6 separate regions of the Homo sapiens genome follow, and all the other regions are linked to region 2. Evidence: fine-mapped expression QTL. A gene starts in region 2. Each other region holds a variant in brackets. All regions are shown on one strand. Distances are from middle to middle. Region 1 has its middle 130 kb from the start of LSM14A. Region 2 holds the start of KCTD15 (potassium channel tetramerization domain containing 15). Region 3 has its middle 38 kb from the start of KCTD15. Region 4 has its middle 21 kb from the start of SUNO1. Region 5 has its middle 23 kb from the start of KCTD15. Region 6 has its middle 50 kb from the start of SUNO1.

What was found. PIP is the estimated chance that this variant, and not a neighbour inherited with it, causes the effect.
Region 1: its variant is fine-mapped to the expression of KCTD15 in whole blood (TOPMed, PIP above 0.99).
Region 3: its variant is fine-mapped to the expression of KCTD15 in whole blood (TOPMed, PIP 0.97).
Region 4: its variant is fine-mapped to the expression of KCTD15 in whole blood (TOPMed, PIP above 0.99).
Region 5: its variant is fine-mapped to the expression of KCTD15 in whole blood (INTERVAL, PIP above 0.99).
Region 6: its variant is fine-mapped to the expression of KCTD15 in whole blood (INTERVAL, PIP 0.96).

What each region holds. Positions count from the first base shown.
Region 1 is chr19:34,039,482-34,044,553 of GRCh38, forward strand. No RefSeq gene overlaps it. Among named protein-coding and RNA genes, the nearest start is that of LSM14A, 130 kb to the right of the region's middle. The variant G/A (reference allele first, on the strand shown) is at 3,059.
Region 2 is chr19:33,794,590-33,799,661 of GRCh38, forward strand. It overlaps KCTD15 (potassium channel tetramerization domain containing 15), which reads left to right and starts at 2,281. Exons shown (of 7, transcript NM_001129994.2): 1 at 2,281-2,398; 2 at 4,079-4,177. RefSeq lists an enhancer at 1-214 and a silencer at 860-979.
Region 3 is chr19:33,832,248-33,837,319 of GRCh38, forward strand. No RefSeq gene overlaps it. Among named protein-coding and RNA genes, the nearest start is that of KCTD15, 38 kb to the left of the region's middle. The variant AC/A (reference allele first, on the strand shown) is at 2,913.
Region 4 is chr19:33,881,723-33,886,794 of GRCh38, forward strand. No RefSeq gene overlaps it. Among named protein-coding and RNA genes, the nearest start is that of SUNO1, 21 kb to the right of the region's middle. The variant G/GCA (reference allele first, on the strand shown) is at 2,613.
Region 5 is chr19:33,817,737-33,822,808 of GRCh38, forward strand. No RefSeq gene overlaps it. Among named protein-coding and RNA genes, the nearest start is that of KCTD15, 23 kb to the left of the region's middle. RefSeq lists enhancers at 2,520-2,719, 2,598-3,592. The variant G/A (reference allele first, on the strand shown) is at 3,011.
Region 6 is chr19:33,852,752-33,857,823 of GRCh38, forward strand. No RefSeq gene overlaps it. Among named protein-coding and RNA genes, the nearest start is that of SUNO1, 50 kb to the right of the region's middle. The variant AATATAAAT/A (reference allele first, on the strand shown) is at 2,282.

The sequences.
Region 1 (5,072 bases), 240 kb after region 2:
GCCCCCAGCCATCCTTCTGCCACTCATATTTTGACACACCATGCCAGGTAGCACTTCCACCCCCATATTCACTCTGTCCAGGATCTAACACCCCCACCCCGCATACCAGGCCACCCACCATGGTAGAACTCCAACACCCCATGCCAGGCAGCGCTCCTAGGTGGATGCCTGCCTCACCTTGCTTGAATTTTTTTTTTTTTTTGAGGTAGATTCTCACTCTGTCACCCAGGCTGGAATGCAGTGGCACAATCTTGGCTCACTGCAACCTCTGCCTCCCAGGCTCAAGTGATTCTCCCACTTCAGCCTCCCGAGTAGCTAGGACTCCAGGTGCCCGCCACCACTCCCAGCTAATTTTTGTATTTTTAGTACAGACAGGGTTTCACCATGTTGGCCAGGCTGGTCACGAACTCCTGACCTCAAGTGATCCACCCGCCTCAGCCTCCCAAAGTGCTGGGATTACAGGCGTGAGCCACAGAGCCTGACCTCTTGCTTGAATTCTGATACCCGCTGCATGGATGCTCTCACCTGGGAGATGTCTGATGCCTCACATAGGGCTGCCCTCTTATGCGGAGCACTTCTTTACCCCACTCATGATCAGACACCCCACACTGGGCTGTCATCCTACACAAATGCTTTCCACACTCCAATGCTCCGATGCTCCAAGCTGGGCCGGCCTTCAGCAGGGAGGCCTTCTTATCCGACTCAGGTTCCAATGCTCTGCATCAGCCACCAAACCTCACCCTGGCTATCTCTGACAGCCCAGGCTAGGCCATCCCCACCCCTCCCATGTGGATACCCTCCTCACCTGCTTCAGGATGGTAGGGCTTCCCTGCTGCTCTGTATGGATGTCCACCTTGCTTGGTCCCACCTAATGACTTTTAAAAGGATTTGTTCAGGAAGAGAAAGAAACGGAAGAAGTGGGAAAGAGAAAGAAATAAGCAAGGCTTTTATTTTAGAATCAAGGGGTGCACGTGCAGGTTTGTTACAAGTCTTCCATGATGCTACAGTTTGAGGTATGAATGGTCCCGTCATCCATGTAGTAAGTAGGGTACCCAATAGGTAGTTTCTCAGCCCTTGCCTCACCACCTCTCTCCCCTCTCTATTAGTTTGCATTGTCTATTTTTCCCATCTTTATGTCCATGTGTACCAAATGCTTAGCTCCCACTTATAAGTGAGAACAGGCAGTATTTGGTTTTCTCTTTCTTTGTCAGTTGGCTTAGGATAATGTCCTCCAGCTGCCTCCATGTTGCTGCAAAGGGCATGATATCATCATTTTTTTTATGCTGCATGGTATTCCATGGTGTATATGTACCACATTTTCTTTTTGTTTGTTTGTTTTTTGTTTTTTGTTTTGAGACGGAGTCTCCCTCTGTCGTGCAGGCTGGAGTGCGGTGGCATGATCCCAGCTCACTGCAAGCTCCGCCTCCCGGGTTCACACCATTCTCCCGCCTCAGCCTCCCAAGTAGCTGGGGCTACAGGCGCCCATCACTAAGCCCGGCTAATTTTTTTTTTTTTTTTTTTTTTGTATTTTTAGTAGAGACAGGGTTTCACCGTGTTAGCCAGGATGGTCTCGATCTCCTGACCTCGTGATCCACCCGACTCGGCCTCCCAAAGTGCTGGGATTACAGGCGTGAGCCACCTCATTTTCTTTATCCAGCCCACCACTGATGGGCACCTGGAAAAGCCCATTCTCTTGTAAACCCATTCTAATCAGACTTTTGTCCCATCCTTCCACAGAAACTGCTCCCAACAAGTTAACCATGACCTCCACAATGGTTGATTCTCACAGCTCACTCAACAGAGCTCTTCCTCCTTCTGGGTATGCCTGGTTCACTTGGGTTTGAGGATACACATTCTCCTGGTTTCCTTCCTGCCTCGTGGAAATGCCAAAGTAGAGAAGCCACCTGCCCGTGAACCTAAGACACTAAAATCCTGAAGTGTGTGGACTGCATTCCTGAATTAAAGGCTACCAAAAATGTCACTGTCATGACATACCCACCCCAGATATATACAAAGCAGTTAGACGGGAACAAAATTAAGGGGATAATTATTCATTACAAAACTACTACCTTCACCAGAGGCCAAGGTTAAAATAATAATCTAAACACTAATCTTGTTCTTAGTTTTAATTAATTTTCTTTAAGATGCTCATCACCATTGAGAAACCTGCACAAATGAATGCTAATTCATTTCACTGAAGTGAAAGAGAAAGGGGCTTTTTTGTTTTAAATGCTTTTCTGATTTTTTTTTAAATTAACACTGCTAACCTATTTCATGTTTAAAATCTTCTCTGCCGAGGCTCAAGTTAGGTTTCCCAATGGAAGAAGAATACAGCTCCTGGGAATTAGGGCAAAATGGCTTGTTAAATGAATGAAGACAGAGGCTGAAATACAAATATTTTGTGAAGTGTTCATATTTTATCAGCCAAAATGAGCTATAGCAAATCATCACATGTCTAAAAAATGTAGAGAATACTGGGAGCTGCTCGTTTTACATCGAGTCGACCTTCTGTTGCTTTAATGACCTGATCTGAAATAACCTGGCAGGCTCAGCATCACCCCCAAGGTCCGTGTCAGCAAAGGGACCCACTGTGTCCATCACTGACATGACGCACGCGCCTGGCTGCCACTCACCAGCAGGGGGCACTGCGCCGGGGCCTTTCTGTAGGCAAAACCACTCAAAAGCTAAGGATTGAGAAACATGTATTCCGGGAGACAGAAAAATGTGCGTCAGTGTCACCATCTCAGACAAACTCATTGCCACACCATCGACAGGACATCTTCATGTGTGTCTTCATAACAATATCCACTGTAGGGTGTTCTGAGGCCCAGAGCCTATCCCAGAATTACAAATAAAATAGTAGTGAAGCCAAAAATACCAAGTCTATCTGAAACCCTTTCAGTGAGCATGATTTTTATTTTATTTTATATTTTGAGATAGGGTCTCTCTCGGTCACTCAGCCGGGAGTGCAGTGACACAATGATAACTCACTGCAGACTTGAATTCCCGGGACTCAAGTGGTCCTCCCACCTCAGCCTCCTCAGTAGCTAGGACTATG[G/A]CATGCACCACCATGCTCAGCTGAATTTTTTTTTATTTTTTGTAGAGACAGGTTCTCACTTTGTTGCCTATGCTGGTCTGGAACTCCTGGCCTCAAGCAATCCTCCCACCTCGGCCTCCCAAAGTGCTGGGATTACAGGTATGAGTCACCGCTCCTGGTCAACATCTACATTTTATATTTGGGGAAAGTGGGGCCCATAAATTATGTATTTTGTGATATATGAGAGACAAAATAAGAGTTTTAATTGCATTTAATATTTAAAAGACTGTAATGGCTGACCCATAAAACAGGATTTTATCCATGATTTCCTCTCTAGTGAATCATTCCTATCAGCACAAATTTTTCCCATGTTAAAAAAAAAATAAGTTTTGGCTAGGTGCAGTGGCTCATGCCTGTAATCCCAGCAGTTTGGGAGGCCAAGGTAGGAGGATCACCTGAGGCCAAGACTTGAAGACTTATCTGAGCAACATAATGAGACTGCTGTCTCTACCAAAAAAAAAAAAAAAATTAAAAATTAGCTGGACATGGTGGCATGCACCTGTAGTCCCAGCTACTCGGGAGGCTAAAGGGGGAGGACCCCTTGAGCCCAGGAGTTTGAGGCTGCAATGAGTGGTGATTGCACCACATCACTCCACTCCACTCCACTCCCTGTCTCCAAAAAAAGAAAAAAAAAAAAAAAAAGTTTTGGCCTTTCTTTCCCTTCTCATTACTGCCCCCATTTCTCTCTTTCCCTTTATAGGGAAGTTGTGTGGTAAACACACTCTACGATGAGTATTCACATCCTTGAATAAACTCCTCCCCTTGAAGGAGGACATAGTTTGCTTGAGTGTGAGCAAAGCTGTGACTTGCTTCTAACCAACTGTATACAGCAAAATCAATAGGATGTCACTCCCAAGATTACATACTATTAAGACTCCATCTTGCTATCAAACTCACTCTAACACTCTCTCTCAAGATAGTTCTGAAGAAATAAGCAGCCAGGATAGGAGGCCAATCTATCAAGAAGCTAAAGACAACCTCTAAGAGCTGAAAGCCACCAAGAAGCCAGGACTCTAAGTCCCACAACCACAAGGAAATGAGTTCTATCACCAACCTGAGTGAGCTTGAAAGCACCTTCTTCCCCAGTTGAGCCTCCAGATTAGAACACAGTCAAGCTAATCCCTTGATGGCAGCCCTGTGAGACCCTAAGAAGAGGACCCAGTTAATCTGTGCCCAGACTCTTGTGAGATAATAAATGCATGTTTTCTTTTAAGTCACTAAGTTTGTGGTAATTTTTTATGCAGCTGTGTTCAAGGATTTCCCAACACCACTCTCAGCTTCAATGATCACTAGAAGGACTCGCAGAATTCAGCAGAGCCATTACACTCACAGTTACAGTTTATCACAGTGAGCAGATACAGATTAAAATCATCAATGAAAAAAGATGCATAGGGAAGAATCAGGAGAGACCAGGCATCAGTTTCCAGTTGTTCTCTCACCATGGAGTCATGTAGACAGCACTTAATTCTCCCAGCAATGATGAATGACAGCTCCCACAGAGTATTACCAAACAGGGAAACTCACTGAAGCCTTTCTGTCCAGGGCTTTTATTGAAGGTTGGTTACCTAGGCATGGCTGACTGCCTGCATGGCTGACTCGAGTCTCCAGCACCTCCAGAGATTGAGATCATACTGGGTAGTACAAGGCCCCCGCCATCAATCACATTGTTAACATGAACTATCTTACATGGCCCAAGGCCTCAGATAAACAAAGACATTGTTAACAGACAGGAGATTCCAGGAGATTAGAGGTTGTCTCCCAGTAGCCAGGAAAGGACCAAACCTTTCTTTGGAATGTGGAAGAATCAGACTACCTAAACCTGCTGAATCCTTTATAGCACAGCAGAAATAGATAACTAATAAAGATTCTGGTACCTAGAAGTAGGGTGCTGCTGTAGAAGTGGCTTTGGAATAAGGTAATGGGTGGAGGCTGGAAGAATTGTGATGAGCATCATAGAAAAAGTATAAATTGCTTT
Region 2 (5,072 bases):
AAGCCTGCTCCACCTTCCCTCATTCCACCCTCCACAAAGGCCTGGGGCGGGGGAGGACGTTTCTGTCCATGAAGTTGGGGGCACCCACACACACAACCTCGTCCGATTGTGATTCTAGCCAGCATTTAAGGGTGGATACAGGAGATCAAAGTATTTGAATACTTGCTTCACTTTCTATTTGTGTCTGGTCCCTCAATGCTGAGTGGGATGTGCATTGATGGAGGGCTTTGCTGTTCCTATGTCGTGCTTGGGACAGTCGGCCACAAAGCTGGGCTGACCTCTCGGGCCGGGCCGGGCCTGGCCAGCGTGCCGAACGCGCAGAGAGCGCGCTGCTGAGCCGAAGCTGGGAGCTGGAAGCCCGGAGGTACCGGGGCGTAGGGAGCAGAGTGGGCAGCCCTTGGGCCTCGCGGGAGCCCCTCCCAACCCCTGCACAGATCCCTGACCTACTTCCAGGGCTTCTTTCTGTTCCAGGAGCAGCTCAAAATCCATAAATTAAGGAAATTAACTGATGGGGCCTGCGGCATCTTTGTAAGCTATTTAAATCTATAAATTTACAACATCTTCTGCATATATCAAATAATTGAACTAACTGCAGGGATGTAACTTTAATGAGAAAATTTCCCCCTTTTTCCTGTAGTTCGAACTCGAAAATAAATAAATAAATAAAACCTTCCCTTAGGAGGAAAGTTTCGGCTGATTCCCGCGTAAAGAAGTTACGGAAGCGCTGTCTGGACGCTCTCTCCACGCGCGCGAGGTCCTCTAGTAGAGGGAGAAAGCCCCCCCCACTTCACCTTCCTCCCACTGGCACCCCGAGTCCCCCTCACCCCAGCTCCAGGCCGACCCCGAGCGCCCCCCACCCCGGGAGTGCGGCCGCTAGGGGGCGTCCAGGCCCGGCCGGAGCCGGCGGTCGGGACCCAGGCGCCGTTCCGGCCCGTGCGCACCCGCCCCGCGGTCCCAGCCGGTCTCCGGCCCGGGCGTCCCTGGAGCCAGGCGGGGGCGCAGTGCCGGCCAGTCGCGCGCTCCGTTTCCTAGGAGCCGGGAAATGGTCGCCGAGGAGGAGGAGGAGGCACGGGCGGGGCGCAAAGGAAACAGGAGGAAGAGGAAGGGGAGGAGGAGTGGGAGTGGGAGAAAAGGAGGAAGGGGCGGCCGAAGCGGAGACTGGGGAGGGGCGTCCGGGGCGCGGACCTCGGCCGCGGGGAGTCTTGGCTGCCGCCGTCTCCATCGCGCCGCGCGCGTAAAGGAAATGGCGCGTCTAGCCGCGAGCGGTCGGCCCGGTGCCCCAGCGCGTCCCTCCCCCGCGGCGGCCGACCGCGTGTCCGCAGACGTCACGGGAGAGGGGCAGCGGGGCAGAGACCCTGGGAGGGCGGCCAGGGAGCGGGGGAGGGGCGGCCTGGCCCCCGGCTCCGCTCCAGCCCCGACCGACTGGCAGCCCAGTTTCTTCCCAAGTCCCGCCCCCAGCCCCGGGCGCCGCGGCGGCGGCTGCTCTCCTCTTTGTAACCGAGGAGTCAAGAAATGTGAGAAACGTGCCCTGTGTTACTTATTTGGGAGCCGAAAATTTATGCCCAGCTGAAAGCGCCCGGGGAAATATTACATCAGATGAAATGACAATGATTAAAATCAGCCTCTCCCCCGCCCCCTCCCCGAGCCCGGAGGAGGCCCGGGCGCCGCGTGGCCGGCCGGCGGGGGGCGGGGGGCTGGGCCGCGGAGGGCGCTGGGGCCTGGGCGCACCGCTCCCGGGAGGGTCCTGGCCGCGGCCCCGGCGGGAAGGCGCGGGCTTCGGGAGAGGCGGGTGGGGATCGCCCGGCGAAAGGAGGGGAAACGGCGCGTTTTTGTCGCCAGGCGCGGGCGCGCGGAGCTAATTGCGACTCTAATCCTCTGCCCCGCGGCGCAGCCGAGCCCCGAGCCAGGAGTCGCCGCGCGCGCCCGTTCGCGCTGGGTAATTTGGGGCCGGATCGCTGCCCTTTACGTCCGGGCTGGGCCGCGGCGAGGCGCTGGCTAGGGGCTGGAGTGGGGGGCTGGTTTTCTCTCCAGCAATCGAGGGAGGCCGCCGGAGAGAGAGGAGGGAGGAGAGGAGGTGGGAGCGGCGGGAGGGCAGCCGGAGAGCGGCGCGAGGAGGAGGCGGCGGCGGCGGAGGCGGCGGCCGCGAAGAGGGGAGGAGGCGAGGGGAGGGTGGGGAGGGGAGGCCCCGGCGCGCCGCGCCGCGAGGGGCCGCGTGAAGCGGGGGCCGGGGCGGGAGGGGTGGGTGGGGGGAGGGTTGGGGGCGAGAGAGAAAGTAACTCCAGGACGAGACCGGAGCGACCCGCGCAGCGAGCATAGGCGGCGAAGCTGCGCCCGGCGCCCGAGACCGGCAGCTGCGTGGGGCGGGGGCTGCGCCCGAGCCCGATCTGCCGGCTCCGAGGTAAGCTCAGCGCGGGCGGCCACCGCTCAGAGCCGCGCAACCCTGCCCCGAAGTGGCTGCGATACCGAGAAAGTCGCCCGGCCAGGGTCTGGACCTGGGCGGGGGCGGCCGCTTTGTCCCTCTGCTGGGCGGCGGGGGCTGGCGGCGCGGGGGTGCCCAGCACAAAGGCCTGGTGCAAGAGTGGGGTTGCCCACGTGGGCTGGTCCTGGCCGCGGGTGGACCCTCCCCACGCGGGCGGTCTCGGAGCTTCCTGCCGCGCGGTGTGTGTGTGTGTGTGTGTGTGTGTGTGTGTGTGTGCGCGCGCGCGCGCGCGCGCTTGTGGAGGTCCCCGCACTCTGGCCCCTGTTCTGGGCCGAGCGCCCTGCAGAGCTGGCGAGTTTCCGGGGTCAGAAACGGGCTCACGCAACTGGGGCTTCGGGATGCACAAGTCCCGGCTTGGCGCCCAAAATCAGAGAAAGTCTCCAGTGGGACAGATGTGCGTCCTCTGACGCCCACCCCACGAGTCCGAAACCTGGCAGGAGGGGCTGTCGCGCTGGTGGTGGTCCCGGGCGCGCAGGGTTTGGGGCTGGGAGAGGGGCCGCGATGGGAGGGATCGCCGCCTGCAGATCCGGTTCCCCGCTGCCCGCCCGCACCCCCTGACCTGGACGCGCGCACCCGGCACACACTCGCAAACACACCCGGGGGCGGACCCCCGCCTCTGCAGCGCCTTTCTGTCTTCCGGCGGCCCCCACCCGCGACTGCAGAAAGATAAGCTTCAAGTTTTCGCTCCGTATCTCAAATGTGCATGAAGGAATTTAACTGCACGAGTGAATAACAGCATTAGTTTCAATTAATTTTTTTTTAATCCCGGCAACAATAAACTTTGAGAACAAAAGCGCTTTTACGTCCTTAATTAGGCGAGCTTCCCATCTGTGGTCTCCAAGTGTCTGCCTCTTGATTTAACTTTGTCCCCGCCCCGCCTCCGCGGCAACCCCTCCCAGCCCAGCCCCGCGCTTCGGGTGCCGCGGCCACCCCGCCCCGCGGCGCCTCCAGCCTTGGCCCAAGCCCTCTCCCGTCGCCCCTAAGTTCACACCGGCCGGCTGGCTCCGCGGCGGAGGCGGGAGGGGGGGGGTGGGGAGGCTGGCGCGCACCAGGTGGCCCGCCTGCCTCTCCGGGGCCACCCCTGGGACAATTGTGCAGGCCCCCAGGACTTTCGCCCCGGGCCAGCGCCCTGAGTGCGGAGCCGAGGGGAGCTCGAGAGGCGCCTTCTGTTTACCTTTTATGGTTAAAATAACAGCTTAGCAAAGAAGCGACTTCAGAAGAAGCGATTTAGTGAAATCGTCTCAAGCTGCCGCAGCTCAGCCAGTTTAATCACCCCCAGAGAGCCGAACAACTGCGAGCGCAATGGGACACAAAATCATTTTGTGTGTAAATGAGCGTGGCATTCTGCTCACTTCTCTCTGCTCGGGCGGGCGGGGCTCGGCGGCGGGCGGGCAGGGACCCGGGTCTCCCGCCGCAGCTGGAGAAGCGGGTCACTACCGGGCCAGTTTGGAAACCTGTGGGCCCTCCCGACCGCTATCGCTGAGGCCCCTGCAACAGGCGGGCCAGGGCGCACTGGGGCTGGGTGCTGGGTTTGATGCTGGTGCTGGTGGAATGAACTTGTATCTCTCACTGCACCCACTTTTGTGCTTCTGACTTAAGCAGTGGTCTCGGAAAGAGGGTCGTGGTCCCGCACGGATGCGCTTGTTGGGAGAAACCTTGGAGATTCACGGCAAGGCGTAAAGCCTGGGGCTTCCAACGGTAAGTTTCTGGCTTGCCATGAACATCAGGTTGTTCTTGGGAGGGAAAAGGGGCTAAGAACAGAGTGGAGCGGCTTCTGTGATGGAGGCTTGGTGTTCACGTCACTTTGGAATAGTGTCCTGGTATTGGGGAAAACATCTTGCAGTCCGCTTTGATAGAATTTCAGCCAGAATTCCTTCCTGTTCAGTTTATCCTCAGCGCGTCTTCCCTTCTGACTCCTCCCCCAGCAGAGCCTCCTAGGGCAGGATAATCCATTCCTGAGGTCTGTTTTGGTTCTCAGAACTCCTTGAGCTAAGTGACCTGGTTTTGTTTTTTTAAGCTTGTAGAACTCAGGAATGCCAAAAGCAGTGGATTCTGAGTCCACAGGCCCCAGTGAGGGTATATATTAAACATCACTGTCTGCCCATTGCAACCTCCCACCCCAGTTTTATGTCAGGAAACTTGCCCGGGCACTCAGGGAGAGCAACCTTGCTTACATTTGCAGGATTTGATTCTGGTTGGATTAAAATTGGATATTGAATTTCAAGGCACAAATTTTGATCCCAGAGTTTTAATGGGAAAAAGCAATCCCATGGGTCCCAAGAATTTCAAGTGGTTTCTCTCTTAAAGGTTAAACCTTCGAGAGACGTCCAGGGTAGGTTTGTGGAAGCCAGTGTCTGTGGATGTGTGAAGGGGGGTGACTATTCACGTGCAAATCTCCTCTTTCCTCCCTTTTGAGACAGCTGTAAATCAGTGAACGGGGCTGCAGAATTCTGCCCCTCCTGCATAGGGCCTGCAAAGCGCCCCTGGGTGTGGCTTCCAGGGACTGAGGGACAATCTTATTTCAGGTGACTACGGCACAGAGGAGAGTTACTGAGTGCCTCTGGGGAGGAGCAGTAGAAAGGGTCCATTGGCT
Region 3 (5,072 bases), 38 kb after region 2:
CAGTGAGTTCCCTGAAACTTTTTTTTTCTTTTTCTTTTTTTGAGACAGGGTCTCACTCTGTTACCCAAGCAGGAGTGCAGTGGTGTGATCTAGGCTCACCGCAACCTCCACCTCCTGGGCTCAAGCAATCGATTCTCCTGCCTCAGCCTCCAGAGTAGCTGAGATTACAGGCACATGCCACCATACCCGGCTAATTTCTTTTTATTTTTAGTAGAGACGGGGTTTCACCTTGTTGGCCAGACTGGTCTCGAACCCCAACCTCAAGTGACCCACCTGCCTCAGCCTCTCAAAGTACTGAAATTACAGGCGTGAGCCACCATGCTTGGCCGTGTCTTCTTCTTTTAATCTTCCATATACCCTAGACCAGGTGCTGAAGATTCCCACAACCTAGAAATTCCATTAAGCACTTAAAAAAAAAAAGATAACAAAATCTTGCTCTCTCTGGACAAATGGACAAAGAATAACTTAAGGAAAACCCGAAAGACGCCTAGTGGGGAGTCCCATGCCCCCTCCACAGCGGAAGCACTGGCAGGCAGCCTGACCCACCTGCAATCACAGCCTGCAGGGGCAGCGTCAGCTTAGCTCTGTGTCTACCTGCCCTCCATGCAGTGGCATAAGAAGACCCAGGCCCTCTAAACCATTTAGCAGAAGAATGTAGCCCGCAAACACCAAGCAGCTCAGGGAAGTGCCTTCTGCCTTAAACGATGACATCGACAGAGATGGGGCAGGGCTAGAAGTAGCCCCAGCAGTGCTAGAAGAATCAAGCAGTTCCAAATCACATTGAAAGTGTTCTGATGGGCCGGGCGTGGTGGCTCACGCCTGTAATCCCAGCACTTTGGGAGGCTGAGGTGGGTGGATCACCTGAGGTCGGGAGTTCAAGACCAGCCTGACCAACATGGAGAAACCCCGTCTCTACTAAAAATACAAAATTAGCCAGGCGTGGTGCTGCATGACTGTAATCCCAGCTACTTGGGAGGCTGAGGCAGGAGGATCGCTTGAACCTGGGAGACAGAGATTGCAGTGAGCTGAGATTGCGTCATTGCACTCCAGCCTGGGCAACAAGAGTGAAACTCCATCTAAAAAAAAAAAAAAAAAACCAGAAAGAAAGTGTTCTGATGATGACCAAACTGTCCCTGGAACTAATGCCTACAAATATATGTCAGAACCTATATACTAAAGCTAAATAGAGTGACTGCCTGCTAAAACATATTAAAAAACAATTTTTTAAAAAAGGCAGACTTGTTCTGTCATCAGGCTGCAGTGCAGTGGTGCAATCACAGCCCACTGCAGCCTCAACCCCCTTAGCTCAAGTAATCCTCCTGCCTCAGCCTCCCGAGTAGCTGAGACCACAGGTGCACACCACCATGCTTGGCTAATTTTTGTCATATTATTATTTGTAGAGACAGGGTCTCGCTATGTTGCCCAGGTTGGTCTCAAACTCCTGGGCTCAAGTAATCCTCCCACCTCAGCCTCCCAAAGTTCTGGGATTATAGGTGTGAGACAACGCATGCAGCCCTAAAACAGATTTAAATAGGATCAAGCGTGTGCTAACATAATATCCAGTGTCCAGAATACAATTGCAAAACACTCATCATCCCAAAGAACCACAGTTCGAATGAGAAAAGACAAACTGCCTCCAAAACCCAGATAAATCAGATGTTGAAATTACCTGACAAGAATTTTAAAGCAGCCTCATAAAAATGCCTCAACAAACACTTATAATGAAAAAAACACTTATAATAAAAAAAATGTTTAAAATTCTCGGCAAAGAAAGAGCAGTAATTTAAACAAAGAACCAAATGGATCTTATAAAACTGAAAAATACAATAACTGAAATTTTTAAAAATGTACTAGATGGACTCAATAGTATAAAGGAGATGACACAAGATAGAAACGATAAACTTGCAACAGATCAATAGGATGTACTCCAACTAAACAACAGAAAGAAAACAGACTGAAAAAAGGAAAAAGAGCTTCAGTGTTCTGTGGGGCAGTAACAAAAGATATAATGTTTTTGTATATAATCCAAATCCCAGAATGAGAAAAGAGAGTGTGGACTAAAAAAGTATTAAAAGAAATACGAAAAGAAATCCACCCCAAGATATATCATAATCAAATTCTGAAAACTAAAAACAAAGACAAAAATCTTAAAACTAGCCAGGCAAACAATGTGTTCCCTATAAATGAATATCAATTCAAATGATAATGAATTTCCCACCGGAAACCACGGAGGCCAGAAAGAAGTGGCCCAACTTTTTTTTTTTTTTTTTTTTTTTGAGACAGGGTCTCACTTTGTCACCCAGGCTGGAGTGCAGTTGTGCAATCTTGCTTACTGCAGCCTCTGCCTTCTGGGATCAAGTGATCCTCCGACCTCAGCCTCCCAAGTAGCTGGGACTACAGGTGCACGCCACCAGGCTTTGCTAATTTTTTAAGGTTTTTATGGAGACAGGGTCTAACAATATTGCCCAGGCTGGTCTCGAACTCCTGGGCTCAGGAGATCCTCCTGCCTTGGCCTCCCAAAGTCCTGGGATTACAGGCATGAGCCACTGTGCCTGGCCAGCCCAACATTTTTTAACTGCTGAAAGAAAAGAACCTCCCACTGCAAATCCTCTATCCAGTGAAATCATCCTTCAGGAATAAAGGGAAAATAAAGTCATTTGCACACAAAGGAAAACTAAGAGAATTGTTGTTAGTGGATCTATCCTTAGAGGAAGCTCCCTAAACAGAAAGAAGATGGTAACAGAAGGAGGTTGGAACATTTAAGTCTTATGTTAGAAAAAAGGAAAAAATCTCAAATCAATCATTTAAGCTTCCTTCTCAATAACGTAGAAAAAGAAGAGCAAATTAATCCCAAAGCAAGTAGAAGGAAGGAAACAATAAACACAAGAGCAGAAATCAACAAAATTAAAAAA[AC/A]AATAGAGAAAATTAAACCAAAATCTGGCTCTTCATAAAGATCAACAAAATATATAAAACTCTTGCAAGATTGACAGAGAGAAAAAGGGAGAAGACACACATCATCAATATCAAGACTGAAACGGATGATATTGCAATCGATCCTGCAGCCATTAAATAGATACTAATGGGATACTATAAATAACTTTACACTCATAAATTCAACAACTTAGAAGAAATAAGGTTATTCCTCAAAAACCACAAAACTGGGCCAAGATGAAATAGATAACCTGAATTATTCTATAACTGTTAAAGAAATTGAATTTATAATTATAAAACTCCTGAAAAAGGAATCTCTATGACCAGAATGTTTCATTAGAGACTTGTACCAAACATTCAAAAATGAATGTTTCAAAAGATTCATGAACATCAATTTTGCACAATGTCTTTCAGAAAGCAGAAGAGGAGTGAACACTTCCAAACTCATTTTATTGAGGCCAGAATTACCCTGATACCAAATTTTGACAAAAAAGAAAACTACAAGGCTGGGAGCGGTTGCTCACACCTGTAATCGCAGCATTGTGGGAGGCTGAGGTGGGCGGATCACCTGAGGTAGGGAGTTTGAGACTAGCCTGGCCAACATGGTGAAACCCTGTGTCTACAAAAAATACAAAAATCAGCCAGGTGTGGTGCCTTGTGCCTGTAACCCCAGCTACTCAGGAGGCTGAGGCAGGAGAATTGCTTGAGCCCAGGAGGCAGAGGTTGCAGTGAGCCGAGATCATACCACCACACTCCAGCCTGGGCAACAGAGCGAGACTCTGTCTCAAAAGAGAAAAAAAAAGAAAACTACGGACTAATATGTCTTATGAACTTAGAGACATTCTCGACAAAATTTTAGCAATTGAATTCAACAATGTATAAAAAGAATAATACACAACAACCAAGTGGAATTTTTTACAGGTATGCAAGGTTGGTTCACTATTCAAAAATCAATCAATGTCATCCACCAGATAAATAGGCTAAAGAAGAAAATCATATGATTATGTCAACTGATGCATTTGACAAAGCATTTGAAAAATTCAGCACCCATTCATGATAACAACTCTTGGTACGCTAGGAATTGAAGGACACTTCTTCAACCTCATAAAGGGCATCTACAAAAAACCTAAAGCTTACATCATACTTCATAGCAAAAGACTGCATGGTTTCCCCTATGGTCAGAAACAAGATAAGAATGTTCACTCTTATCATTTTTATTGAACATAATATTGGAAGTTCTAGCCACTGCAATAAGGCAAGGAAAAGAAAGAAGCATACAAATTGGAATGGAAAAAAGTAAAACTGTCTCTGTTTGCAGATGACATGTTGTCTACAAGGAAAATCCCAAGGAATCTACAAAAAACTCCTAGAACTAATTAAAAAGTTCAGTGAGTTCAGTAAGGTTGCAGGATACAAGATTAACATACAAAATCAATTGCATTTCTATATACTGACAGCAAACAAGTGGAAATCAAAATAAAAAACACAATACCACTTAAAACTGCTCCAAAGAAAATCAAATCCTTAGCTGTAAACCTAACAAAACATGTATAGAATCTGTATGATGAAAATTACAAAATGGTAATGAAAGAAATAAAAGAAAACCTAAATAGTTGGAGAGACATACTAAATTCATGGATCAAAAGACTTAACATAGTAAAAATGTCAAGTCTCTCTAAATGATCTATAGGTTTAATGCAATTCTTACCAAATTCTCAGCAAGAATTTTGTAGACATAACAAGCTTATGCTAAAATTTAGGCCGGGCACGATGGCTCATGCCTGTAATTCCAGCACTTTGGGAGGCCGAGGCAGGCAGATCACTTGAGGTCAGGAGTTTGAGACCAGCCTGGCCAACATGGCGAAACCCCGTCTCTACTAAAAATACAAAAATTAGCTGGGCATGGTGGTGCATGCCTGTAGTCCCAGCTACTCGGGAGGCTGAGGCAGGAGAATTGTTTGAACCCAGGAAGTAGAGGTTGTGGTAAGCCGAGATCGCACCACTGAACTCCAGCCTGGATGCTGCAGTGAGACTTTGTCTCAAAAAAATAAATAAATAAAATAAAATAATAAAATTTATAGGAAAAGATACAAGACCTAGCTTGGCCAAAGCAATTTTGAAAAAAGAAAAAAAGGGATATG
Region 4 (5,072 bases), 87 kb after region 2:
ATTTTCAAATCTGTTTATTCTACTAGACACCCTCGTATTCCTAGCGCTTGTTTCTACGTTTTCTTTTGTTTAAATCTCTTATTGTCTCAAAAAGGTTATCAAAAAATAAAAATAAAAAAACGCATGTGCACACACACACACACACACACACACACACACACACACACAAGATTGTGTCCAGAAGACTTTCCAAGGGCTGGGAGTGGTAGCTCACACCTGTAATCCCAGCACTTTGGGAGGCAGAGGCAGGAGGATCGTTTGAAGTCAGCAGTTTGAGACCAGCTTGGCCCACATGGTGAAACCCCGTCTCTACTAAAAATACAAAAAAATTAGCTGGGCATGGTGATGTGCACCTGTAATCTCAGCTACTCAGGAGGCTGAGGCAGGAAAATCATTTGAGCCTGGGAGGCGGAGGTTGCAGTGAGCTGAGATCACACCACTGCACTCCAGCCTGGCTGACAGAGTAAGACTCCGTCTCAAAAAAAAAAAAAAAAAAAAAAGACAGTTTTCCCAGCTCATCCCCACAAAACCTACCTCCCAGCTCCCTTCCTGTAGACCTAGGCAGAGAGAGACCAGCTCTAGAGAACTCAGGAAAGGTAATGTTAGAAACCTGAGAACTGACAGGGTCAGGAAGATAGCCTGAGCAGCAAGAAGTATGGTCTAGTATGGTGAAATTTTGTTCATCTTAGATTTTTTTTTGCATTAGTTTTTATTTTTAAAATATTGCATTAAAATAGTATCTATTTATTACTGGGTTATTGGGCACCTCCTTAAAGCCTGCCCTCAGGCAAGTGCTTCACTGCCATCATCCTGGTCCTGGCCTTGCCCTGGGGAAGAGATGCCTGCTGACATCCGCTTCAGCTTCGCCAGGCTCCAGCCTGGACCAGCTAACATGGCTGTGGAGGAGCCACTTCTCTCAACACCCCTCTGTTAGGGAGGAGGAGACAACTTCTTTTATTTTGTTTTATTTATGTATTTATTTTTATTTTTTATTTTTTATTTTTATTTTTTGAGATGGAGTCTTACTCTGTCACCCAGGCTGGAGTGCAGTGGTACGATCTCAGCTCACTGCAAGCTCCGCCTCCCGGGTTCATGCCATTCTCCTGCCTCAGCCTCCGGAGTAGCTGGGACTACAGGCGCCTGCCACCACGTTCAGCTAATTTTTTGTATTTTTAGTAGAAACGGGGTTTCACCGTGTTAGCCAGGATGGTCTCGATCTTCTGACCTCGTGATCTCGTGATCCGCCTGCCTCGGCCTCCCAAAGTGCTGGGATTACAGGAGTGAGCCAGCGCGCCCGGCCTATTTATTTATTTATTTATTTTTTGAGAAGAGGGTCTTGCTATATTGCCCAGGTAGGTCTCAAACTCCTGGGCTCAAGCTATCCTCCTGCCTCTGCCTCCCTAGAAACAACTTCTTTACTGGCCATTGGCAAGCCAAGTTCATTGAAGTCTCCCTCCTAAACCTTTACAAAGATTTAGGAAACAGATTAACAATAAAACTTCAACAAACCCAGGATGGGAGAGTTACTGAATTAAATTAGAGCTTTTCTCGTACATCACGCTAAAGGTAAATTATTTTGTTTATTCGAAGCCACATTCATATTATAAAATGGTTTGCTTCTCTCTCTCTGTCTCTCTCAAAGAGATGAGGTCTCACTGTGTCACCCAGGCTGGAGTATAGTGGTATAATCACAGCTCACTGCAGCCTCCAACTCCTGGGCTCAAGAGAACCTCCCACTTCAGCCTCCTAAGCTGTTAGGACTACAGGTGCACATCACTACCTCTTGCTAATTTTTTTAATTTTTTGTTGAGACAGGATTCCGCTATGTTGCCCAGGCAGGTCTGGAACTCCTGGCCTCAAGCGATCCTCCCACCTTGACCTCCCAAAGCACTGGGATTACAGATGTGAGTCACCACACCCAGCTGGTTTGCTGTTCTGATAAAGGTCTTGAAAAGACAAGAGGAGATGTATTTTATTGGCATCATTATCACTAACTAGCACCATTGCTTACTGAATGCCATGCATGGAGCTGAGAGCTCTACAATATACATTATTTTGCTTAGTCTCCAGCAACTGCAATGGCAAATTTGAGGCTGCACAAAGATACACATGCTGGCCTCAGGGCTGAGCCGGGATGTGAAGTCAGATCAGACTCCAGAGCCCACATGCCATGGAGCCTTGGAGACAGGTTTGCTTTCACTCTGTTATCTTGCACAGGCCTAACTCTGGGCAGGGATGCTGAGCCCAGGGCTGAGGCTTGGCCAGGCGGCTGCAATCGCAGATCAACCCTGTAAGCCTGAGGACCCGCAGCTTCCGTGGGAAGGTACAGACCTCCTGCCCTGCTGCACAGCCCTGGGCAGAGCAGGCATGCCCAGGACCACACTCCACTTCCTCCGGATGGTGCCTTCAGTGGAGTCAGCGGCAGGACCACTGATTTTTCATTCTAGGTCCCTATGCAAAAATAATAAAGACTTCCTGTCTGAGCACTAGGGTAAACAGATCTTAGCTAAAGGGAGGAGGAGGGGTTGTGGGAAGAACCTCTGTTGTCCCAGCTGGAAACTTAAGCACCAGGAAATGCATTTCCGCGTGTTCCCAGCCTGCCGAAAAGTCAG[G/GCA]CACACCAAGGACAAAGCAATCTCCAATGCCTGGCCCAAATTTGGCTTTTCCCCTTCCCCGCCTGCTCCTCCAGGCTTCCTGGGTTTTTCACTCTCCTCCGTTTCCCCTCTGGGCAAGCCCAGAGGGTGTTTGTTTAAAGTACCTTTCGCTAACATTCCTTCCCAGCCATTCTCACAGCTTTTCACTTTGCATTACGCCCAGAGCCCCTAGATGCAGTCTCTTTACCCAGCCAACCCTCTTTCAAAAACTAACCTATATTTTACATGGAGAACTTTAACCCGTTTGCCTCCAAAAAACCCTGTAACATTACAGAGACGCTAAAGTCTCCTTGGACCTCTAAAAATCCATGGCTACCCACTTCAGCTCCCCAACAGGTAAGCACTGAAGCACTGACTTTGGAATTTTTTTTTCAGAAATGTTTCCTGTTTTTGCAACATACATTGGACTTCATTAAAACTATGGCATGTGAATTTTTTTATTTTTATTTTTATTTTTGAGACGGAGTCTCGCTCTGTCTCCCAGGCTGGGGTGCAGTGGTACGATCTCGGCTCACTGCAAGCTCCACCTCCCAGGTTCAAGCGATTCTCCCGCCTCCGACTCCTGACTAGCTAGGACGACAGGCACCCGCCACCATGCCCAGCTAATTTTTGTATTTTTAGTAGAGACGGGATTTCATCATGTTGGCCAGGCTGGTCTTGAACTCCTGGCCTCAAGAGATCTGCCCACCTCGGCCACCCAAAGTGCTCAGATTACAGGCGTGAGCCACTGTGCCCGGCCGAGGCATGCGAAATGTTATTGATGAGTTTGGTTACTTTTTTTACATATATACTGTTCTACGCATTTTTTTTTCACTCAACAATACCTCTTAAAGATCTATTTGCATACACACAGATCCAAGTCACTTAAAAAAATTTTTTGTATAAAGCCCCATGCTGTGAACTGCTTCTATCTACTGAGGCATTTTGATATTGATGGGCATTTAGGCTTCTGCTATTTCCAATGCTGCTTCAGAGACGCTTTCTTTGTGCACATATACATTTCTCGAGGGTAGATAACACAGAAGGGAAATTGCTGGGTTTCACGGTATGCACATTTCTAGCTCTGAGGGCATCCAAAGTGCAGCTGTACTGATACACGGGGCACCAGCATCCTCTGGGAGCAGCGCCCTTACAGGCCTGCTAGTACCTATCGGACTTTTAAATTGCTGCCCTTGTGATGGGTGACAAGTGTTGCTTAATTTGTATTTCCCTTAAGATTTGGTAGGGTCAAACTTTTTTTTTTGGTAATACATTTTACAAGTCCTTTTTCATACCTCTTCTGTGAATTGCCTGTTCATATTCTTTGCCCCTAAAAAAAAAATTGAGTAGTTTGTCTTTAAAAAAAAAAAAACACTTTATGGATCTATGATTGACATATAAAAAGCTGTACATACTGATGCATACAACTTGATGGGATACTATACACAGCCATGAAACCATCACCACTATCAAAGCCATAAATATATCCATCACCTCCCAAAGATTCTCCCATTCCCTTTATTTATTTATTTATTTATTTAGAGCCAGGGTCTTTTTTTGTCACCCAGGCTGGAGTGCAGTGGCACAATCACAGCTCATTGCAGCCTCAACCTCCTGGGCTCAATCAATCCTCCATCCTCAGCTTCCCAAGTAGCTGGGACTATTGCTTTTGAGACGGAGTCTTGCTCTGACGCCAGGCTGGAGTGCAGTGGTGTGATCTCAGCTCATTGCAACCTCCACCTCCTGGGTTCAAGTGATTCTCCTGCCTCAGCCTCCCAAGTAGCTGGGACTACAGGCGCACGCCACCACACCGAGCTAATTTTTGTATTTTTAATAGAGACGGGGTTTCCCATGTTGGCCAGGATGGTCTCGATCTCTTGACCTCATGATCCGCCCGCCTTGGCCTCCCAAAGTGCTGGGATTATAGGCATGAGCCTCCGCACCCGGCCAGGATCTCCTTTTTTAAGGCTGAATTGTATTCCATCGTGTATACACCACATTTTCTTTATTCATTCATCCATCAATGGACAGTTAGGTTGTTTCCATATCTTGGCTATTGTGAATTGTGCTGCAATGGACATGAGAGTGTAAGTATCTTTTTGAGATACTCAGCATTGCTGGATCATATAGTAGTTCTGTTTTTATTTGTTCCAGTAACCTTCACACTGGTTTCCATGATGGCTGCACCAATTTACATTCCCACCAACAGTGCACCAGTGTTCTTTTCTCCACATCCTTGCCAGCACTTATTGCCTTTTTTAAATTTATTTATTTAAATAATAGCGATCCGAGCCAGGTGCAGTGACTCATGCCTGTAATCGCAGCACTTTGGGAGTCTGAAGTGGATGGATCACCTGAGGTCAGATGTTCAAGACCAGCCTGGCCAACTTGGTGAAACCCCGTCTCTACTAAAAATACAAAAACTCGCCTGTTGTGGTGGCG
Region 5 (5,072 bases), 23 kb after region 2:
CCTGAGGCAGGAGAATCGCTTGAACCTGGGAGGCAGAGGTTGCAGTGAGCCGAAGTCTCACCACTGCACTCCAGCCTGGGTGACAGAGTGAGACTCCTTCTCAAAAACAGGAAAAAAAAATGGTAAGAATAGAAAGATGATATTAATGCATATGTGTCAAAAGCAGCTCCTGCCTTTATTAGTGAGAAGTTTCTCATTAGATCAAATGAAGTTTCTTGTCAGTATCCAGAGAAACCTACAAAGGCATCACAAAGATAAAGCTCTAACGTCCAACATAAAGCCCGAGACAAAAGATGGTCTAGAGCACCTGCTTGGAGGAAGGTCTATCCAGGAACAACTGTATTTAGGTTAAACTGCTAAATTCACCAACTAGGGCAGAGAGGCACAGAAACATTCCCTCCAGAACCCCTTTCCATTAAGAGTTCACTCCTGTCACCACATTCTAGGCAGCCCCGATGTTCTCTGGAGGACCGGTGAGGTAAGGTAATGCTTTGTGGACTAACAGAAAGAAAAAAGTGTTGGTGACAGCTAAGGGCAGCTTCCTGCCAGCACCAAGACTAGCGCTGATGTTCTCTTAGAAGCACCAGAGTTTTCTAAGGTGACCCAAATGGAACACAACCCCAGGGAAGGTTGAAAGTCAGAAAAGAAGAGCGCGTCTCTGCTCTTTCTGGATCTCACAACCAGCGAGTTCTCGCAGCCATGGCCTCTGTAAGCCCAGGGACATTTCTCTGTGAGCTTTCATTGGAAGGGAAACCCCAGCCCCAGAGAAGCCTACCCCGCCACATCCCAGGCTAATCCCTGGATCTGGTTCAGGAGCTCTCTTCCTGCAAGCCCCAAAGCTAGACAAGCAGAGCCCTGCCAGGCCCATGGTGACCTCTGCAGACCTAGGAACTGCAGGCAGAGTTGGGGGCTCGTTCCTGGGGAGGGGCCCACCCCTGAGGTTGTGCATCCAGGAGGGGCCCACCCCTGAGGTTGTGCATCCAGGCATGACTGACTGTTGGTAGCTGTTTACCCTCAGGGAAAGAGAACTTTCTGTGTTTTTATCTCCACCCCCAGTGGAAGGATATGTTGAGTAGAGTTTTTGCTTTTTGAGGAAAAGTCATGATTTGGAAAGGGGCGCTGATGTATCTGTTGAGGCTTTGGATGTTGATTTTTAAAGGGTCCCTGCTTCCCTGCAAAGATCCTTATCTTCACAACCACCCAAGAGCACCACTTATTGGTGGCCAGCATATGCCAAGCACTGCAGGTGCTTGGGAGGGCAAGATAGCTCATGAGGCTTGGAGCAGACATTTGTTTATGCACAGGAATTGTTCACTTTTTTTCTTCTCCTTTTTTTTTTTTTTTGTGAGACAGGGTCTCACTCCGTTGCCCAGGCTGGAGTGCAGTGGTGCAGTCTTGGCTTACTGCAACCTCTGCCTCCTGGGTTCAAGCGATTCTTGTGCCTCAGTCTCCCGAGTAGCTGGGATTACAGGTGTGCACCACCACGCCCAGCTAATTACTGTATTTTTAGTAGAGGCGGGGTTTTGCTTTGTTGGCCAGGCTGGTCTTGAACTCCTGGCCTCAAGTGATCCTCCCACCTTGGCCTCCCAAAATGCTGGGATTACAGGTGTGAGCCATTGCGCCCAGCCAGGAATTGTTTACTTTCAATTGTGTACTTGAAGCTCTGTAAATTTAACAGGAAGAGAGACCACATTGCAGTTTTCCACTTCGTCATGACACTGAACATGGATTACCCCAAATGCATTGATTTGCATGTAGAGAGAACCACCTCTCAGGCCTCAAGACTAGCGTCTCCATAGCAAAGGAAGCTTCTGTGAAATTCTAATGAGAGACCCAGAGAAAGAGGCAGGCACACTCCCGGGGACACACAAAGGAGAGGGGTTAGGGGTCAGCTGCATTTGGGGTTTTGTCTTTATTTCCATTACACAGAACAGCCAGTCCCGACAGCGCCCAGGCCCCACAGGACAATGCTGTTCCTGGACCCGGAGCCATGGCCGTGGAATAAGAGCTAGGTCTTCAGGGCCTCCTCCTAGGATCCTTCTTAACACAGAAATCACAAACCAGGCCAAAGTCTTAAAAAGCAGAGCCTGGGAGGGGCAGGGACGCCCAAGCCACGCTGGGGCCCGGGAGGCCTCCCGTCCTGCCCGCGGGAGAACCCAGGCCGCGCATCCCTGGCTGGACGGCGTCACCAGCCGTAGCTGGGCCAGGCCTGCTGCTCAAAGCCCGTGTCTAGGATGTCACCAGAGCTCCCTTTTCTGTGTCCTGGACCCGGTTCAGGGCCCCCGAGGAAGCTGCGGTTTGGGGCGAGCCGATTGCACCAGCAGGGCCGGGCTGCTGCTCCCGGGGCTGACGCGGGCCACGCCCTCCTGGACGCGGACACACCCCCATTTCCCCGGGCCCACAGAGCCACGCCTGGCCCTGCAGCCAAACAGCGGGAAGGCAGATTGGTACGAGTAGGTACAAGGCCCTGGAATTCTCGCCCGGTTGCCACACACTGCACGGAGCATAATTGGGGGAGGTTGTGCAACTGCCCGGGAAGCCGGGGCTCGCAACGAGGGCTCTCTCCAAGTCCCCATCACAGGCCTCCGGGGAGCCTCGGGACAGAGCCTGACGCCACCTTCGGGTGACATCGATGGCCTCGCTCTGGCAGAGGAGTAGTGTGGCTCTGCCGAGAACTGGGGAGCCCGGGTCCCCGCAGGGCCAAGGGGAGGGAGGGCTGGCGGAAGGGGCCGCGCCCACAGCCCCAGGTGGCAGCAGCGGCGGTGGCGGTCCCGACTGGCAGAGCCTAACGAGAACAGGGCCTATCCCCAGGGGCCCCGGGCTGGACGCAGACCAGATCTCGCGGGGGTGGGCTGGGAGGCGCCCGCCAGAGGCCGGAGGCTGACAGTGCCTTTCCTATCCTATGGGTCTATTGTGGGCCCGCGGAGCCCCCATGGGTGGGTCCATCCCCGGGCCCAGTGAGTCACTTCCCCAGGCCCCGGAGGCCTTCGTGGAAGGTGCCTCCCTTTCC[G/A]GCAAAGCATCCTTTGTTCTCCTGCTGGCTTTGCTTCCCAATCCTCTCTGAGTTGCAACCTTGAGGGTTTTAGGGGCACCAAGCTCCCAGGAGCACAGAGGTGGGCTTGGGTGCCACCTGGAGAGCGGGCTGCAGAAGGCTGCAGCTGCTTTTTTGCTTCCTCAGTTCCCTGCCCTCTCAAGGCCCAGGCTCTCCCACCTCCCCAGACGTCTGGGGAAACCCACACTGCCCTGCATAGGTTGTGGTGTGCAGCCTCCGGACTGCAGATCCTGAACGCGCATCAGGAGGGAGGGAGGGAGGTTTCGATGCTCTCGCCCTGGCCAGCACCGCTCTGAGTTGCTGAACTGGCCTCAAGGCTTCTCTTGCATCAGGGAGAGGCTTCCGGCACCACCACTGGCACTCCTCCTTCTCCCTCCCTTTAGCCTCCCCCAGTTCCCATGCCCAGGTGGAGGAACCCGTGTAGAAGCCCAGCCCAGGGAGGGAATTCATCAAAGCACCTTCCCACACAGCCTCTAGTTTGCCTCCTCTCCACTCCCACCTTCCAGCCCCAGCCTGGCTAGCCACGTGGGGGGCTCCTGTGCCAAGGAGTGCCCAGCTGCCGGGTGAGTGAGCAGCCCTGCACAGAAGGCAGCTGACTACCATACACACTACATGTGTGGAGAGCACCAGCCTTGCAGCCTGGCGAGGCTCTTGCTTTGAAGAAATAGAAGACTAATTATTTTATTTATTTATTTATTTATTTATTTATTTATTTATTTATTTATTTTTGAGATGGAGTCTTGCTCTGCCACCCAGGCTGGAGTGCATTGGTGTGATCTTGGCTCACTGCAACCTCCACCTCCCAGGTTCAAGTGATTCTCCTGCCTCAGCCTCCCGAGTAGCTGGGATTACAGGCGCCCACAACCACGCCTAGTTAATTTTTGTGTTTTTAGTATATGTGCTGCTGAAGTGAGCATGAATTTTTGTGTTTTTAGTACAGATGGGGTTTCACCATGTTGGACAGGCTGGTCTTGAACTCCTGACCTCAAGTGATCTACCCTCCTTGGCTTCCCAAAGTGCTGAGATTACAGGTGTGAACCACGGCACCCAGCCAGAAAACTAATTTCAAAACAAAAACAAAAGCACCCCTGTATGCACAGATTCTCAAATTGTATTTACTATTGGCAAAGAAAGGAAGGGGGCCCCTTAGTGTCCTAAAACCAGGAGAGATGAAATCGATTATGGAACATCAGTTGATGAAATACATTTATCCTTCCACAAATATCTACTGAGTGTCTACAATCAGCCTGGTTACTGGAGGCCAGGCTCTGAGTCGTGAGTGTCCCATGAATCACCAGCTCTCCAAACCCTGACATCTAACACCACCCACTTCCCACCCTCCCCAGGAAGAAACAATATTTAATAGTTTCATTTACACAGAAAAAGAAGGTGCAAGCTCTCTCCCTAAGGAAGAGCCAAAAAGCAGCCTCAACTGGCTCCAGAGCCTGTGCTCCTGGATTAAGAACAGAGATCAGTGTATTGGTTTCCTCTTGTGGCTATGACAAGTTACCACTAATGTGGCTTAGAAAAATACTATTTTTTTTTCTTTTTCTTTTTGTAGAGACAGGTCTCCCTATGATGCCCAGGCTGGTCTTGAACTCCTGGACTCAAGCGATCCTCCCACCTTGGCCTCTCAAAGTGCTGGGATAACAGGTGTGAGCCACCATGCCTAGCCCAACACTGATTTTAAGATGATATATTTTCATCTTACAGTTCCAGATGTCAGAAGTCTGACATGGGTCACACTGGGCTAAAATCAAGGTGTCAACAGAGCTGCTCTCCTTTCTGGAGCTCTAGGGGAGAATCTTTCCTTGTCCTTTCCAGCTTCTAGAGGCTGCCTTCATTCTGTAGCTTGTGGTCCCTTCCTTCATCCCCAAAACCAGAAGTGTAGCATCTTTAGATCCCCTCACCCTTGTTTTTCTGGACTCTAGTGATTCCATTGCCCACCCTCCACCCTGCAGATAATCTCCCTATTTTAAGGTCTACTAATTCACCTTAATTCCATTGGCAATCTTAAACCCCT
Region 6 (5,072 bases), 58 kb after region 2:
GATCATCTAGATAGAAAATTAAGAAAAAAAATTGGATTTAAACTGCACATTAGACCAAATGGACATAACAGAAATTTATAGAACATTTCATCCAACAGCTGCAGAATACACAGTCTTCTCATCAGTACACGAAACATTCTCCAGGATAGACCATATGTTAGAACACAAAACAAGTCTCAATAAATTTTTAAAGATTAAAATTATATCAAGTATCTTCTCAGATCACAATGAAATAAAACTAGAAATCAATAACAAGAGAAACTTTGAAAACTGTACAAATACATGGAAATTAAATGACATACTCTTGAATGACCATTGGGTCAAGAAAGAAATAAAGAGGAGATTTAAAAAATTTATGAAATAAATGAAAATCAAAACAGAACATATCAAAACCTTTGAGATATAGCAAAAACAGTGCTAAGAGAGAATTTTATAGCAATAAATGCCTACATCAAAAAGTAGAGAAATTTAAAATAAATAATTTAATGATGTACTTCAAGGAACTAGAAAATCAAGAACAAACCAAACCCAGAATTAACAGAAGAAAATAAATAATAAAAATCAGAGCAGAACTAAATGAAATAGAGACTTAAAAATTACAAAGGATAAATAAATGAAAAGTTGGTTTTTTGAAAAGATAAACAAAATTGATAAACCACTTGCTAGACTAAACAGGAAAAAAAGAGAGAAGGCCCAAGTAAACAAAATAAAAAATAAAAAAGGAGACATTACAACTCATACTACAGAAATACAAAAGATCGTGAGAGACTATGATGAACGTCTACACACTAACAAACTAGAAAACCTAGAGTAAATGGATAAATCCAGGACACGTACTACCTACCAAGATGGAATCAGGAAGCAACAGAAAACCTGAACAGGCCAATAATGAGTAATGAGATTGAATCAATAATTAAAAGTCCAAGACAGGATGGCTTCACTGCCAAATTCTACCAAGATTCCAAAGAAGGACTAATATCAATTCTCCTCAAACTAATCAAAAAAATTGAAGAGTAAGGAATTCTCCCTACTCATTCTATGAGACCAAAATTACCTTGATACCAAAACCAGACAAAGACACAACAACAAAAGAAAACTACAGGCCAATATCCCTGATGAACACGATTGCAAAAATTCTGAACAAAATACTAGCAAACCAAATCCAGCAGCACATGAAAAAAAAAAAAATAGGGCCGGGTGCAGTGGCTCATGCCTGTAATCTCAGCACTTTGGGAGGCTGAGGTGGGAGGATCACCTGAGGTCAGGAGTTCAAGACCAGCCTGGCCAAGATGGTGAAACCCCCCCATCTCTACTAAAAATACAAAAATTAGCTGGGCGTGGTAGCGGGCCCCTGTAATCCCAGCTACTCGGGAGGCTGAGGCAGAATCGCTTGAATCCAGGAGGCAGAGGTTGCAGTAAGCTGAGATCGCACCATTGCACTCCAGCCTGGGTGACAGAGTGACACTCTATCTTAAACAAACAAACAAACAAAAAAATACACCATGAAAAATTAGCCGGGCATGGTAGTAGGCACCTGTAGTCCCAGCTACTTGGCAGGCTGAGGCAGGAGAATCGCTTGAACCGGGGAGGCGGAGGTTGCAGTGAGCTGAGATTGCGTCACTGAACTCCAGTCTGGGTGACAGAGCTAGACTTCGTCTTAAAAAACAAAAACAAAAACAAAACGAAAACAAACAAACAAAAAACACCATGATCAAGTGGAACTTTGAAAACTATGCAAATACATGAAAATTAATCCCAGGGATGCAAGGATCATTCAACATACACAAATCAAAAAATGTGATACATCATATCAACAGAATGAGGGACAAAAAAACCCATATGATCATCTCAATAGATACAGAAAAAGCATTTGATAAAAACACTCAATAAACTAAGTATAGAAGGAATATAGCTCAATATAATAAAGGCCATATATGACAAAACCACAGCTAACATCATAATGAATGGAGAAAAGGTAAAAGCCTTTCCCCTAAGAACTGAAACAACACAAGGATGCCTTTTTTCACCACTCCTATTCAACATAGTACTGGAAGTCCTAGCCAGAGTAATCAGACAAGAGAAAGAAACAGAAGGCATCCAAATTGGAAAATAAGAAGTCAAATTGTTGATCTTTCCATATGTATATATAAACAGGGTCTTGCTCTTTCACCCAGGCTGGAGTGCAGTGGTGCGATCTTGGCTCACTGAATCCTCCGCCCCCAGGCTCAAGCGATCCTTCCGCCTCAGCCCCCTGAGATATATATCTCTCTATATAAATATA[AATATAAAT/A]ATATATATATATATATATATATATATATATATAGTTTTGAACAACATGGCAAGACCCCATCGCTACCAAAAATACAAAATATTAGCCAGGCATGGTGGTGTGTGCCTGTGGTCTCAGCTACTCAGGGGGCTGAGGTGGGAGGATCACGCCCGGCCAGGTTACTTGATTTTTGACACAGGTGCTAAGGTTATTTAGCATCAAGAAAATGAAAGTCTTCATAGAAAATAGTCCCAGACACTTGGACATCCATAGGCAAAAGTGAACCTCAACCTTTATGTCTCACCTTACACAAAAATTAACTTGAAATAGAGTAGTAGACTTAAATGCAAAATACAACATTAAGAAACTTCTATAAGTGAATAGAGGAGACAATCTTTGTGAGCTTGGGATAGGCAAAGATGTCTTAAACAAGACATAAAAGCACTAATCTTAAAGGAAAAACTTGACAATTTTTTTCCTTCATCAAAATAAAAAAAACTGCTTTCTGAAAGGCACTTTAAAAATAAAGTCTTGAAGTCAGGATTTAAGACCGGCATGGGCAACATGGTAAGACTCTGTCTCTACTAAAAATGCAAAAAATTACCCAGGCATGGTGGTGCATGTCTGTCATCCCAGCTACTTGGGGGGGGTGAGGTGAGAGAATTGTTTGAGCCTTGGAGGGTGGAGGTTGCAGTGAGGAGCCAGGATCACACCACTGCACTCCAGCCTGCGTGACAGAGAGAGGCCCTGTCTAAATAAATAAATAAATAAAGTCAAGACAAAGGGTATAAGACAATATTGTCAATACACAGCTCTTACAGAAAGACTTGTATAATATCTTACAAAAGATTCAATAAGAAGAAGACAACTGAATTTTAAAATGGACGAAAGATTTGAACAGACATTTCACGGGCTAAGAAGCACATGAAAAATGCTCCACATGATTAGTCATTAGGAAAATATTAATTAAAACTACAATAAGATATCAATAAGCATCCCTACTAAAATGGGCTAAAACGAAAAAGACAGATATTCTGAGCTCTGGTGGAGGAGCTAGAGCTCGAATCCCTGGCTGGAGGAAGTGTAAAATCGCTCAGCTCCTTTGCAAACAGTTTAGCAGTTGTTATAATATTAAACGTACACTCGATAAAGAAAATGTGATATATATATACCATGGAACGCTACTCAGCCATAAAAAGGAATGAAATAATGGCATTGGCAGCAACCTGGATGGAATTGGAGACCGTTATTCTAAGTGAAATAACTCCGGAATGGAAAACCAAACATTGTATGTTCTTACTCATAAGTGGGAGCTAAGCTATGAGGATGCAAAGGCATAAAAATGATACAATGGACTTTTGGGACTCAGAGGAAAGGGTAGTGGGTGAGGGATAAAATACTATACATTAAATACAGTGTACACTGCTCGGGTGATGGGTGCACCAAAATCTCAGAAATCACCACGAAAGAACTTATGCATGTAACCAAACACCACCTGTTCCCCACAAAACCTATTGAAATAAAAAAATAAAAATAAAGTTGAACAGGAGAAAAAAAAAATACACTCATCACATGACCCAGAGATTCCACACTTAGATATTTACCCAAGAGAAAGAAAAACATATACCCATACCGAGACTTGTACACAAATGTTCATAGCAGCTTTACTCATAAAAACCAAAAACTGGAAACAATCCAAACGACAGATAAGTGAAAACACAAATTGTGGTGTATCCATACAACAGAACACTATTCAGCACAAAAGAGGATAAACTGCTGGTATGTGCAATGGCATGGCTGATTCTCAAAAGCATAAGTGATCTCTCAAAATGATGCCTCAGCCAGCAGAGGTGGCTCATGCCTGTAATCCCAGCACTTTGGGAGGCCGGGGTGGGCGGATCACTTGAGGCCAGGAGTTCGAGACCAGCCTGGCCAACTTGGCAAAAACCCCATCTCTACTAAAAAAACAAAAAACAAACAAAAAAAATGAGCCAGGCATGGTGGTGCATACCTGTAATCTTAGCTACTCGGGAGGCTGAGGCAGGAGAATTACTTGAACCCAGGAAGCAGAGGTTGCAGTGAGCTGAGATCACAATACTGCACTCCAGCCTGGGCAACAGAACAAGACTCCATCTCAAAAATCAAAAAAACAAAACAAAATGATGCCTCAAAAGTATGATGCTGGGTGCAGCAAACCACCGTGGCAAACCATGTAGGTAAACATGGTACAGGTTTACCATGTAACAAACCTGCACATGTACCCTAGAACTAAAAAAAAAAAAAAAAAAAGCAGCATGATGCCGGGCAAAAGAAGCCAGATACAAGAGTATGTGCTGTACTATTCTGTTGATATGAAATAGAAATAGTGACAAAAAGCAGATTGGTCACTGCCTAGAGCAGGGGCTAGGAAGGCAGGTTATCTACTAGGCAGGAGCAGGAAAGCAGCTATAGGTGTGGAAACGTTCTATGTCTTTTTTGGGTGGAGGGTGGTTACATGGTTGTATACATTTGTCAAAATGCATGGGTGCATTTTATTTTGTAAAAATTATGCCTCAATAAGTTGGAATTAAAGAAAAAAGAAAGAAAAAATATTTTTATGCCATTGGGGGTAGAGAAAGTTCTTTTTGAATAAGATATAAAAACTATAAACCACAAAAGACAAAGAGAATTCTACTACATTAAAATTTACAACTTCTGCATATCAGAAGACACCAACCTCAATATTAAAAAACAACCCACAGGCTGGGCACGGTGGCTCACACCTATAATCTCAGCACTTTGGGAGATCAAGGCAGGTGGATCA